Linked DNA regions of Homo sapiens: region 1 is linked to region 2. Evidence: fine-mapped expression QTL. A gene starts in region 2. The other region holds a variant in brackets. All regions are shown on one strand. Distances are between the middles of the regions.

Region 1 (5,371 bases), 35 kb before region 2:
TAGACAATTTCCTAGAAAATAAAAGATGCACTAAAACTGACCTAAGACACAACAGAAAACATGAATTGATAAGTATTTTAAAATTTTATTTTATTTTTGAGATGGAGTCTTGCTCTGCCGCCCAGGCTGGAGTACAGTGGCGTGACCTCGGCTCACTGTAACCTCCACCTCCTGGGTTCAAGCGATTCTCCTGCCTCAGCCTCCCAAGTAGCTGGGACTACAGGCGCCTGCCACCACACACAGCTAATTTTTTGTATTTTTAGTAGAGACAGGGTTTCACCATGTTGGCCAGGATGGTCACCATGTTGGCCAGGATGGTCTCCATCTCTTGACCTCGTGATCCACCCGCCTCGGCCTCCCAAAGTGCTGGGATTACAGGTGTGAGCCACCATGCCCAGGCTTTTTTTTTTTTTTTTTTTTGAGACAGTGTCTTGCTCTATCACCCAAGCTGCTGGAATGCAGTGGCATGATCAGGGCTCGCTGCAGCCTCAAACTCCTGGGTTCAAGTGATCTTCCCACCTCAGCCCTGCAGAGTAGCTGGGACTACAGGCATGCGCCACTGTGCCTGGCTAATTTTTGTATTTTTTGTAGATATGGGGTTTTGCCATGTTACCCTGGCTGGTCTCAAACTCCTTGGCTCACGCGATCCACCTGCCTTGGCCTTGCAAAGTGTTGAGATTACAGTCATGAGCTGCTGCGTTCGGCTTAAAAGTTTTTCAACATTTTTGACAACAACATCTGGATTCTCACATTCTCCCTCCATGAAAGAGAAAATGAGGAACTATTCTCTCTCTTCCATGGTGGAACACTCCAGGTACTCCCAGCCTGGAAGGCCAGACCCTCCAACTTTCCCTGAATGACCCCCTCACCAAGAAGTGTGCATTGAATGTGGGACTGACCACACATGAGGTCAGTTTGTTGGTCTATCTAGACTGCCTTTGGACTTCCCTTGCCTCTGATCTCATTCCTTTAATTAACAAACATTTACTGAGGGCCTACTGTGTTCAGGCCCCAGGCCAGGTTCTGAGGACATTGTGGAGAACAAAATACATTCCCTGACCTCATGGAGCTTTCAGTCTCATGGTAGAGAGATCCACAAGCTAATTGCAGGTTATTTGACTGTCTGCTGAATGAATGCATTAGTGGAAGAATGAATGAGTAAAAGCTACATTGTCCAAATTCCTGTCCTGTCAGAATTGATGTTGACGTTCTTTTTTTTTTTTTTTTTTGAGATGGTCACTTACTTTAACAACAGTACATATACCATGTTATCACCATGAAATGTAAATTCAGGTTAGACAAGAAAATTTCACAAATGTAATAACATTCTATAGTTTATAAAAGTTTGGGTATACTGTCTGGCCAAACCAGCTTGCTCATAAGTCATTAATCAATTCCATTATAGGTAATTTGATTAGTTTAATGTTTGTAATTCTTATGGAAAAAATAAGCAATGCACACATTTAAAAAGTGCTCATTGGGCTGGGCACGGTAGCTCATGCCCGTAATCCCAGCACTTTGAGTGGCTGAGGCCCAGCGGATCACGAGGTCAAGATCGAGACCATCCTGGACAACATGGCGAAACCCTGTCTTTATTAAAAATATAAAAATTAGCCAAGGATGGTGGTGTGCACCTGTAGTCCCAGCTACTCAGGAGGCTGAGACAGGAGAAGTGCTTGAACCCGGGAGATGGAGGTTGCAGTGAGCTGAGATCACACCACTGCACTCCAGCCTGGTGACAGAGCGTGACTCCGTCTCAAAAAAAATAAAATAAAAGGTGCTCATTTACCTTTGCATGAGTGCTTAAATACATATTTCTATCTCAAGATGACATTTAAAAATTATTCAGATATAACAGCAGCAAAAATATAATTCTGCAATTACAAAATAACTAAACTAGAATCCATAAGTTATTCTCATGTTCACAACTGTGATTCTTTAATAAATACCACTACTATGCAGCTATAATGTAAGCTTTCTAGATTTGGTTTAAACACACACACATAGATACTGTCAGTTGTGGGAAGCTTTACAAGTTTTATTCCATGCACTTTTTAGACAGAGTTCTGAAAGAGCCAGCCAGTCCACAAGACAGGCAGAAAAAAAGTTAAATTAACTAGGGCAAATAGGACTCTTATATAACATCCGAAACATGTGAGATCCTGCAGCAAACTGGGAGTACTTCAGGGTTGGCTTGTTATATCCTTTAGAACTTAAGTTCATCTTCACAATTGAAGAAGGTGGACATTTCAACACCATCTAGTGCATTTAGGTGACATGTTTCTTTTATGCTAACTTGATTTCCTTGAATGACCTAGTTAGTAAACTAGTCACTAGTAATTAAGTCACCAGGCAAATCAAGCCTGCAAGAAAGGAAGCCAATATTCAAAATGCTGTGTTACCATCTAAACCCACTCAAATAGTTTATTTTCCACAATAACACATAACTTCAATAATGAGATGTCTAACTAAAGCAAGCTCCTCCAACAAGACCAAGACAGCATCTCTTCTTCTAGGGCTTAGGTTTTGCCCAGAATTCTCGATACATGGAATAGCCCATACCAATAGTCATTGCTCCTACAACAAAGCCTTGGGCTGCCACACGCATGTGGATCAGATGAAGGGACATTTGCGTATTTCCCCTGCTCTTCAATTTGTATAATCCATATGTAACAAGTGCTGCAAAACCTGCTATTCCAACGGGTACCAATGGTGTCTCTTTAGCTTTACGAATAAGTTTGGATCCCTGAGCTTCGTCATATGAAGAAAGGGAAACATCTGTGTCTGTTGATATAATGACTGCTTGAAGAATCTCCCGGCTGGGCGCGGTGGCTCATTCCTGTAATCCCAGCACTTTGGGAGGCTGAAGCGGGCGGATCACGAGGTCAGGAGATCGAGACCACCCTGGCCAACATGGTGAAACCCCGTCTCCACTAAAAATACAAAAATTAGCTGGGCATGGTGGTGCCGGCCTGTAGTCCCAGCTACTTGGCAGGCTGAAGCAGGAGAATAGCTTGAACCCAGGATGTGGAGGTTGCAGTGAGCCGAGATTGCACCATTGCACTCCAGCCTGGGCGACAGAGCGAGACTCCATCTCAAAAAAAAAAAAAGGAAGAAGAAGAAAACCTCTCACACCTGATGTCAACATTCTTTTAGTTAACATTTAACATGTTTTTCTTGAGTGCCAAGTATGTGACAGATTTAGAGCAAGGGTTTTTACAGGGCATACAATGTAACACCCTGTCTTTCCCTGACCAAGTTTAGTACCATCTGAAAAACAGACACATAGGATAGAGATAAAAATGTTACTTCTGTAACCAATAGAGTTGTTGAGAAAATGCATTTGAAGTCCCTGTACCC[G/A]TCCCAGAGCTGCACAGACTTACCCACTCTGCTCCCAAAGGTTTCTCCTTCTTTTGATGTAGGGTAGGCAAGCCCCCAAATTGGGGCTTAGCCCGGGAGGGTTCTTGGCTTTGTCCAGGAAATAATTCCAGGGTGAGCCAGTGCTGTTAGACAGACACTTTTAGTGAAGTGGCAGTGCACAGCAGCAGCAGATGTACTGTTCCTTGCACACCAGGGCTACCCCGAGTAGCAGCTCAGAGGTAGTTCTGCAGTCATATTTATACCCACTTTTAATTATATGCAAATTAAGGAGAAGATTATGCAGAAATTTCTAAAAATAAGGTGGTAACTTCTGAGTCGTTTGGTCATTAACACAGAAAGAGGCAGTAACTTCCAGGTGTTACCATGGCAATGGTAAACTGACATGGCACACTGGTGGGTGTGTCTTATGGAAAGCTGCCTCCACCCCATCCCTGTTTTAGCAAGTCCTCAATTTGGTCTGGTGTCCCAGCCCCACCTCCAGAATTGAGACCTGCCTCCTACCTCACTTTGGGTCCCATACATAGTTGCTTCTAACAACTTCACCAAGAAAACTCTCTTTTCTACTTCTTGGGAGGGGTGAGTGAGAGAAAGTGGGACAAGGCCACTTTTCTGCAGTGTTAGTTACTCCAGAAAAGGTCCACCATGTGGAAACAGATATAATGAGAAATAATCCTTAGTTTGTGTTAATCAAACCCAGTCAGTTATCCAACCAGTCAATTCCTCAATCCAAGCAGCATGAAACTGCACTCCTAGTTAGGTTTGTGGATTATAAATGCTCATAAATTCCTTATCCCGTCCCTCATGGAAAGGTGGGGTTTACTTCTCCACCCCCTTAATTCTGGACTTGGCCTATGACTTGCTTTGAACCAGTAGAATATGGTGGAAATGAAGCTGTGCCCAATTCTGGGCTTACCCTTTAAAACAGAACTGGCAGCTTCTGTTTTCTTCTCTTGGAATTCAGCCACCATGCTGTGAGGAAGCCCAAGCAGTCCTGTGGGGAGGCCCATGTAGAGGAGAATCAAAGCTCCATTCTCAGCCTTTTGGGTAAGATCAAGTGTAGTATCTGTTCTTATCAGTTTAATATCTGATATGTCCTCTATTCGAGGACACAATCTATATTAAATAGATTTTTGGAACTAAGAGATGGAATAGGAGCTTGCCCCACCCACTCCACACATTTACCTAGCATTGCAGTACCTCCAGGAACAGTGTACCCCTAAAGGGAGATAAAGTTTAAAAATGAAAAAAATAGGGAATAAAAAGCTCTAGCCCTACCATCCAATTGGCTGGGGGAATTTAAATAAATAAATAAATAAATAAATAAATAAATAAATAAATAGCTCTAGCCAGCATCAACTTGCCAGCCATTGGAGTGCACCATCTTTGAAGGGTCCTCCAGCTCCAAGGATGGAGCTGGAGGCACAAGAAGAGCTGTCTCAACCAGGCCTTGCCCAAATTGCATAATGGTAAGAAAATAAATGATTGGTATTGTCATAAGCCTCTAGGTTTGAGAGTGGCTTGTTTCACAGCCCTAATCTAATTTGACTCCCTGTTCTTGGCCCCAGACCCAGGGCCTGCCACAGAATAAGAACTCAGGGAGTGTTGAAGAAGTGAGTCAACAAATGATTGGGCTGAGCGTGGTGGCTCACGCCTGTAATCCCAGCACTTTGGGAGGCCGAGGCAGGTGGATCATCTGAGTGAGGTCAGGAGTTCAAGACCAGCCTGGCCAACAGGATGAAACCCCATATCTACTAGAAATATAAAAATTAGCCAGGTATGGTGATGCGTGCCTGTAATCCCAGCTACTCAGGAGGCTGAGGCAGAAGAATCACTTGAACCCAGGAAGTCGAGGTTGCAGTGAGCCAAGATAGCGCCACTGCACTCCAGCCTGGCTGACAGAGTTAGACTCTGTCTCAAAAAAAAAAAAAAAAAAAAAAAAAAAAAAAAAAAAAAAAAAAAAAAAAGACTGGATTGGCTAAGTGGATGATGG
Region 2 (5,371 bases):
CTCCATCTCCTGGGTTCAAGTGATTCTCCTACCTCAGCCTCCCTAGTAGTGGGGACTACAGGAGCCCACCACCACGTCCAGCTAATTTTTGTATTTTTTAGTAGAGACAGGGTTTCGCCATATTGGCCAGGCTCGTCTCTCGAACTCCTGACCTTATGTGATCCGCCCACCTCAGCCTCCTAAAGTGCTGGGATTACAGGGGTGAGCCACTGCGCTCAGCCTGTGGTATATTTGTAATCACTGATGAACCAATATTGACACAATATTATTAATTCAAGTCCATAGTTTACATTAAGGTTCACTCTTAGTGTTGTACATTCTGCAGGTTTGGATAAATGCATGTCATGCATCCGTCATTACAGTATCATACAGAATAGTTTCGCTGTGCTAAAAATGCCCTGTGCTCCATCCCTCTCCTACCCCTCTGAATCCCTGGCAACTGCTGATCTTTTTACCATTGCTAGTTTTGCCTTTTCTAGAACGTCATATAGAGTTATTGGAATCATACAGTATGCAGCTTTTTAATACCAGCCTCTTTTACTTAGCAATATGCGTTTAAGGTTATGCTATGTCTTTTTGTAGCTTGATGGCTGATTTCTTTGTATCGCTAAATTTTAAAGAAATTGCCAAACTGTCTTCCAAAGTGGTGGTGATCATTTTACCCTCTCTTGGTGTATGACAGCTCCAGTTCTTCTATATCCTTGACAACATAACAACACTTGGTATGGTTGATCTTAACTTTTAGCCATTCTAGTAGGTGTTCTTTTAGAAGCAGTCCTTCTAGTGGCTTTAATTTGCATTTCCCTAAGAGTAATGCACTCAGTGTTTTTTAATGTGCCTATTTGCCATCCAGAGATCTTTTTGGATGAAGTGTCTGTTCAAATGTTTTGTCCATTTTTTGACAGGCGCGGTGGCTCACCCTGTAATCCCAGCACCTTGGGAGGCAGAGGCGTGCAGATCACTTGAGGTCAGGAGTTTGAGACCAGCTTGGCTAACATGGTGAAACCCTGTCTCTACTAAAAATACAAAAATTAGCCTGGTGTGGTGGCGGGCGCCTGTAATCCCAGCTACTGGGGAGGCTGAGGCAGGAGAATTGCTTGAACCCAGGAGGTGGAGGTTGCAGTGAGCCAGGATCGCGCCACTGCATTCCAACCTGGGTGATGGAGCGGGACTCCATCTCAAAAACAAAAACAAACACCAGAAAACAAACAAATGTTTTGTCCATTTTTATTGGATTTTTATTCAATTGTAAAAGTTCTTTATACAAGTCCTACATCAGATAGAATTTTTACAAATATTCGTCCTAGTCTATGGCTTATCTTTTCATTTTTAATAGTTTCGTGCATTTTGAGAAACAAAAGCGTTTTATTTTGATGAAGTTCAATTTATTGATTTCTTCTATCATTTACACTTTTTGTGTCATATTTAAGAAATCTGGCCAGGTGCCAAAGCTCACACCTGTAATCCCAGCACTTTGGGAGGCTCAGGCAGGAGGACTGCTTGAGCCCAGGAGTTCATGACCAGCCTGAGTAACACAGCAGGACCCCATTTCTACAAAAAATTTAAAAATTAGCTGTGTGTCGTGGCACGTGCCTGTAGTCTCAGCTACTCAGGAGGCTGAGGTGAGAGGATCTCTTGAGCCCAGGAGTTTAAAGTTACAGTGAGCTGTGATCAGGGCACTGCACTCCTGCCTGGTCAATGAAAGCAAGACCCTGCCTTTAGAAAAGAAAAAAGAAATCTTTTCAAACCCAATATTGTTAAGATTGTCTCCATTTTTAAAAAAAAAAGTTTTATGGTTTGGCCATTTATATTTAGGTGTGTAATCCAGTTTGAGTTAAATTTTGATGGTGTATCCTAAATAGTTATCAAATCCATCTACTTCTGCCTGCCACCTCTCTAGTTTAAACCACCCTTCTCTGTCCCTGGACACCTGCGCAGAAAGCCTAGGAGCTGGTTCCACCCATCACTCACCAGGTTAGGTATTTCAGGCAAGTCACACCCTCTCAGGCCTCAGTTTTCCTCTTTTGTTAACTGAGGGTGAAAGTGGGGTTAGATTAGATCAGCGGCTCTTAACTTTTGAGGGGTCGTGGGCCCTAGAGTCCTGGGAACGCTATGCAGTTTCCTCAGCAAAATGCTTGCATCCACAACATGCAAGACTGCAGCAGCTGCTGGGCTGGGGCTGCGAGACCAGCGAAAAGCCCTGACTTGGGGGGGTCTCGGGAGTCTCTGCAGTCTCCCCACCCACACCCCCGGCCTCCGCGCCGAATCCTGGCCCCCCAACTTCTTGCAGCCCGTGAAGCAGGATCTCAGGGTCCTGGGGGTGGGGAGAGGGGGCTGCCGTCCTGCTCGCAGCCTCTGCCGCCCTCTCCTGGGTAAGGTGACACATGGGCGCTTCCAGGTGGGTGGGCTGAGAGCCTGGGGGAGAGAACAGGGATGTCCACCTCTCTAAGTTTCCAGGTTCAAGAAACCCCAGAACGTTAGAGAAAGATGGGCTCCCACAATTGCCCAACCCCATCCCATAGGATGCACGCATGCGGAAAGTCGGGCCGAACGGGGCAGGGACTTACCCAAGGTCACGCAGCGAGCCCGGTCCCCCTGCGTTCCCCGGGGAGCGCTGAGCCGGGACGCGGCGGTGGGGTGGGGAAGGGGAGTGGCGCGGCCCTGCGGGGTGAGGCTGCCGTTTGCTGAGTGTCCGGCAGGGGTCTGCTCGCTGCCAGCCCGGCCCCTCCTCAGAGCAGCTGCCGCAGCCCGAGGTAATCTCGGCCCCGCGCCGGGGCTGGCTGGGAACGGCGGGAGCAGCTGCGGTCGCGCGGAGCGAGGGGAGCTGGGGACCGGGCGGGCCCGGGGCTGCGGGAGGCGGCGCCGCCGCACAATCGCCCCGGAATGCCCGCCAGGGCGCGCGTGGGGTGCGGCCGTCCGGCCCTGCAACTCGAGCTGCTGCCCCTGGTTAAAAATACCCCCTGCCCGGCCCTCCCCCTCCGTTCCCCGCGGTGCCCTTCCGCCGCGCCCCAGCCCCCCCATCCCCCCCCGCGCTGGCCCCTCCCCGGGGACTGCTCTGCCTTTTACTAATTTGTCCTCTCGCGGAATTGGCCCCCGGCCTGCGGAGGGAGGGGCGGGGAGACACCGTGAGTAAGAGATAGTCAGAGACCGTGCCGGAGAGATAAGGGAGAGCCGAGAGGAAGCGGGGTAGGAGCCCCAGGAGGAGGAGGAGGAGAAGGAGAGAGGGAGGGCGGAGGGCGGAGGGGCGGCGGGAGGAGGGCGGGGAGGAGCGCTCTTCCTGGTTGGGCCCTGCCCTGAGCTGCCACCGGGAAGCCAGCCTCAGGGACTGCAGCGACCCCCAAACACCCCTCCCCCAGGTAAGAAGCTGGGTAGCCGAGCCGGGATTCCTTGACCCTGGCCACTGCTCCTGGGCTGAGGGGCTGCCCCAGCACGGTCCCTTCTCGGGGGCCTCTGCGTTCCTGGAGCAGGGGTGGGGGCTGGCGGAGCGGCACAGCCCAGGCGCCTGTCCCAGCCTGGCTCACCGCTGTCCCCAGGGGCTGGGCTAGGGCCCACCAGCTCTGATATCGAGCCTGCTGCGGGGGCCTGAGGAGGGGGACCCCGACCGTCTGGGGTTTTCAGCCCACGGCAAGGGGCCGGTGCACCAGGAGCTTGGTTAGTTTGGGGAGGGGGTTGCAGGCCTGTGAACAGGATCAAAGAGGCCTTCCCTGCTGTGTCCCACCTGCCCAGTTCCTTGTGCTGTCTGGAGGCTCCGCCCTGCCCCACCTGACCTGCTGGCTCACTACAGAGCTGCAAGCCCCTGACAATGGGATCCGGGAAAGGAGAGGTGGCCGGCACGCCTGGGAACTGGGAAATCCCTTTCCTGGATTCACTGGGAGCACCGGGAGGTGGCTGAGAACCCTACTTCTGTGAGGGGAGCAGTGAGGCAGGGAAACCCTAGGTTTGGGGATGGATAAGCAGGGGCAGGAGAGCAGAGCTTGCAGGCAGGAGCCCAGGTTCTAGTCTTGGGAAGGCCTGGGTTCTGAGCAGGCCCATCTGTCCGGCAGGATGTCGGAGGAGATCATCACGCCGGTGTACTGCACTGGGGTGTCAGCCCAAGTGCAGAAGCAGCGGGCCAGGGAGCTGGGCCTGGGCCGCCATGAGAATGCCATCAAGTACCTGGGCCAGGATTATGAGCAGCTGCGGGTGCGATGCCTGCAGAGTGGGACCCTCTTCCGTGATGAGGCCTTCCCCCCGGTACCCCAGAGCCTGGGTTACAAGGACCTGGGTCCCAATTCCTCCAAGACCTATGGCATCAAGTGGAAGCGTCCCACGGTGAGAGGGGCCATCCTGGGTGGGACTCGGCTAAGCCAGATCCTGGATGAGGAGTAGGGATGGGACTCCATGTCCCTGGTGGGGAATGGGGTCTGGGGTGGCCTGGTGCCAATTTCTGGGAGGGGCTGGCCGAGGAACAGGACTCTGGGTCTCTCGTAGGAACTGCTGTCAAACCCCCAGTTCATTGTGGATGGAGCTACCCGCACAGACATCTGCCAGGGAGCACTGGGTAGGCCCCCAGGGCGTCGGGTCCCGGGTATTTTTTCCACAGTAGTTCCCCATTCCCGCTCCTTCAGGCTCTGCCCCAACCCCTCCCTCTTGCAAGCCCAGGCAGGATCTGGCTATCAGCGCTGGGGCTGGTTTGCCCAGATTCCTGGGTCTTTTCTGCAAGCTGAGGGGAGTTAAGTGGCACCCTGGCCAAGGAACCCCAGATTCTCCCTAGCACCCGCTTCCCCCCCCGGGGCAGGTTGGTAGAGCAGGCTAATGTGCATCCCTCCTGCCCCAGGGGACTGCTGGCTCTTGGCGGCCATCGCCTCCCTCACTCTCAACGACACCCTCCTGCACCGAGTGGTTCCGCACGGCCAGAGCTTCCAGAATGGCTATGCCGGCATCTTCCATTTCCAGGTGAGGGCTCCCCTGGGGAGGAGGGGCAGCAGGCACTGGGGGAGATGCGGAAGGATGACCCACAATACCTGCAGTTAGGGCCACACCCTGTGGGGCCAGCCCTCCCTCTAGCAGGTATTTGACCTCTCAGTGCCATCTCGGGTCTGTCATGTGTGAAGTGACTGGGCTGGGCAGGTATTTCGGCTGGCAGTTTTCCTAGGTGGTTGTATGTATCAGGTGGAAAGTGCTTGAAAGAACAGAAAGACTTTTGTGTTATATCCTGTGGGACAAATTCCACTCCTCCCGGAGGTCGGTCTCAGTTGCCCCATCTGAGAAAGGAGTGTTCGCTGGGGAAAACAGATCAGCACGTGTGGCCTTCTCCACGTGTCAAGCCTCCTATCCCCCAACTCCTCCTGCGCTTTGGCAAGGTCTGACTGAGCCCAGCAGAAAAGAAAGA

What was found.
Region 1: its variant is fine-mapped to the expression of CAPN1-AS1 in whole blood (INTERVAL, PIP above 0.99).

The regions. Positions count from the first base shown.
Region 1 is chr11:65,143,179-65,148,549 of GRCh38, forward strand. It overlaps the pseudogene HIGD1AP10 and the pseudogene RNU2-23P. Among named protein-coding and RNA genes, the nearest start is that of SYVN1, 11 kb to the left of the region's middle. The variant G/A (reference allele first, on the strand shown) is at 3,361.
Region 2 is chr11:65,178,658-65,184,028 of GRCh38, forward strand. It overlaps CAPN1-AS1 (CAPN1 antisense RNA 1), which reads right to left and starts at 3,177. Exons shown (of 2, transcript NR_145677.1): 1 at 2,568-3,177; 2 at 1,214-2,415. CAPN1 (calpain 1) reads left to right here and starts at 3,271. Exons shown (of 22, transcript NM_005186.4): 1 at 3,271-3,356; 2 at 4,044-4,311; 3 at 4,471-4,540; 4 at 4,817-4,935. The coding sequence starts at 4,045. RefSeq lists silencers at 2,590-3,039, 3,641-3,935 and enhancers at 2,958-3,747, 3,748-4,536, 4,537-5,326.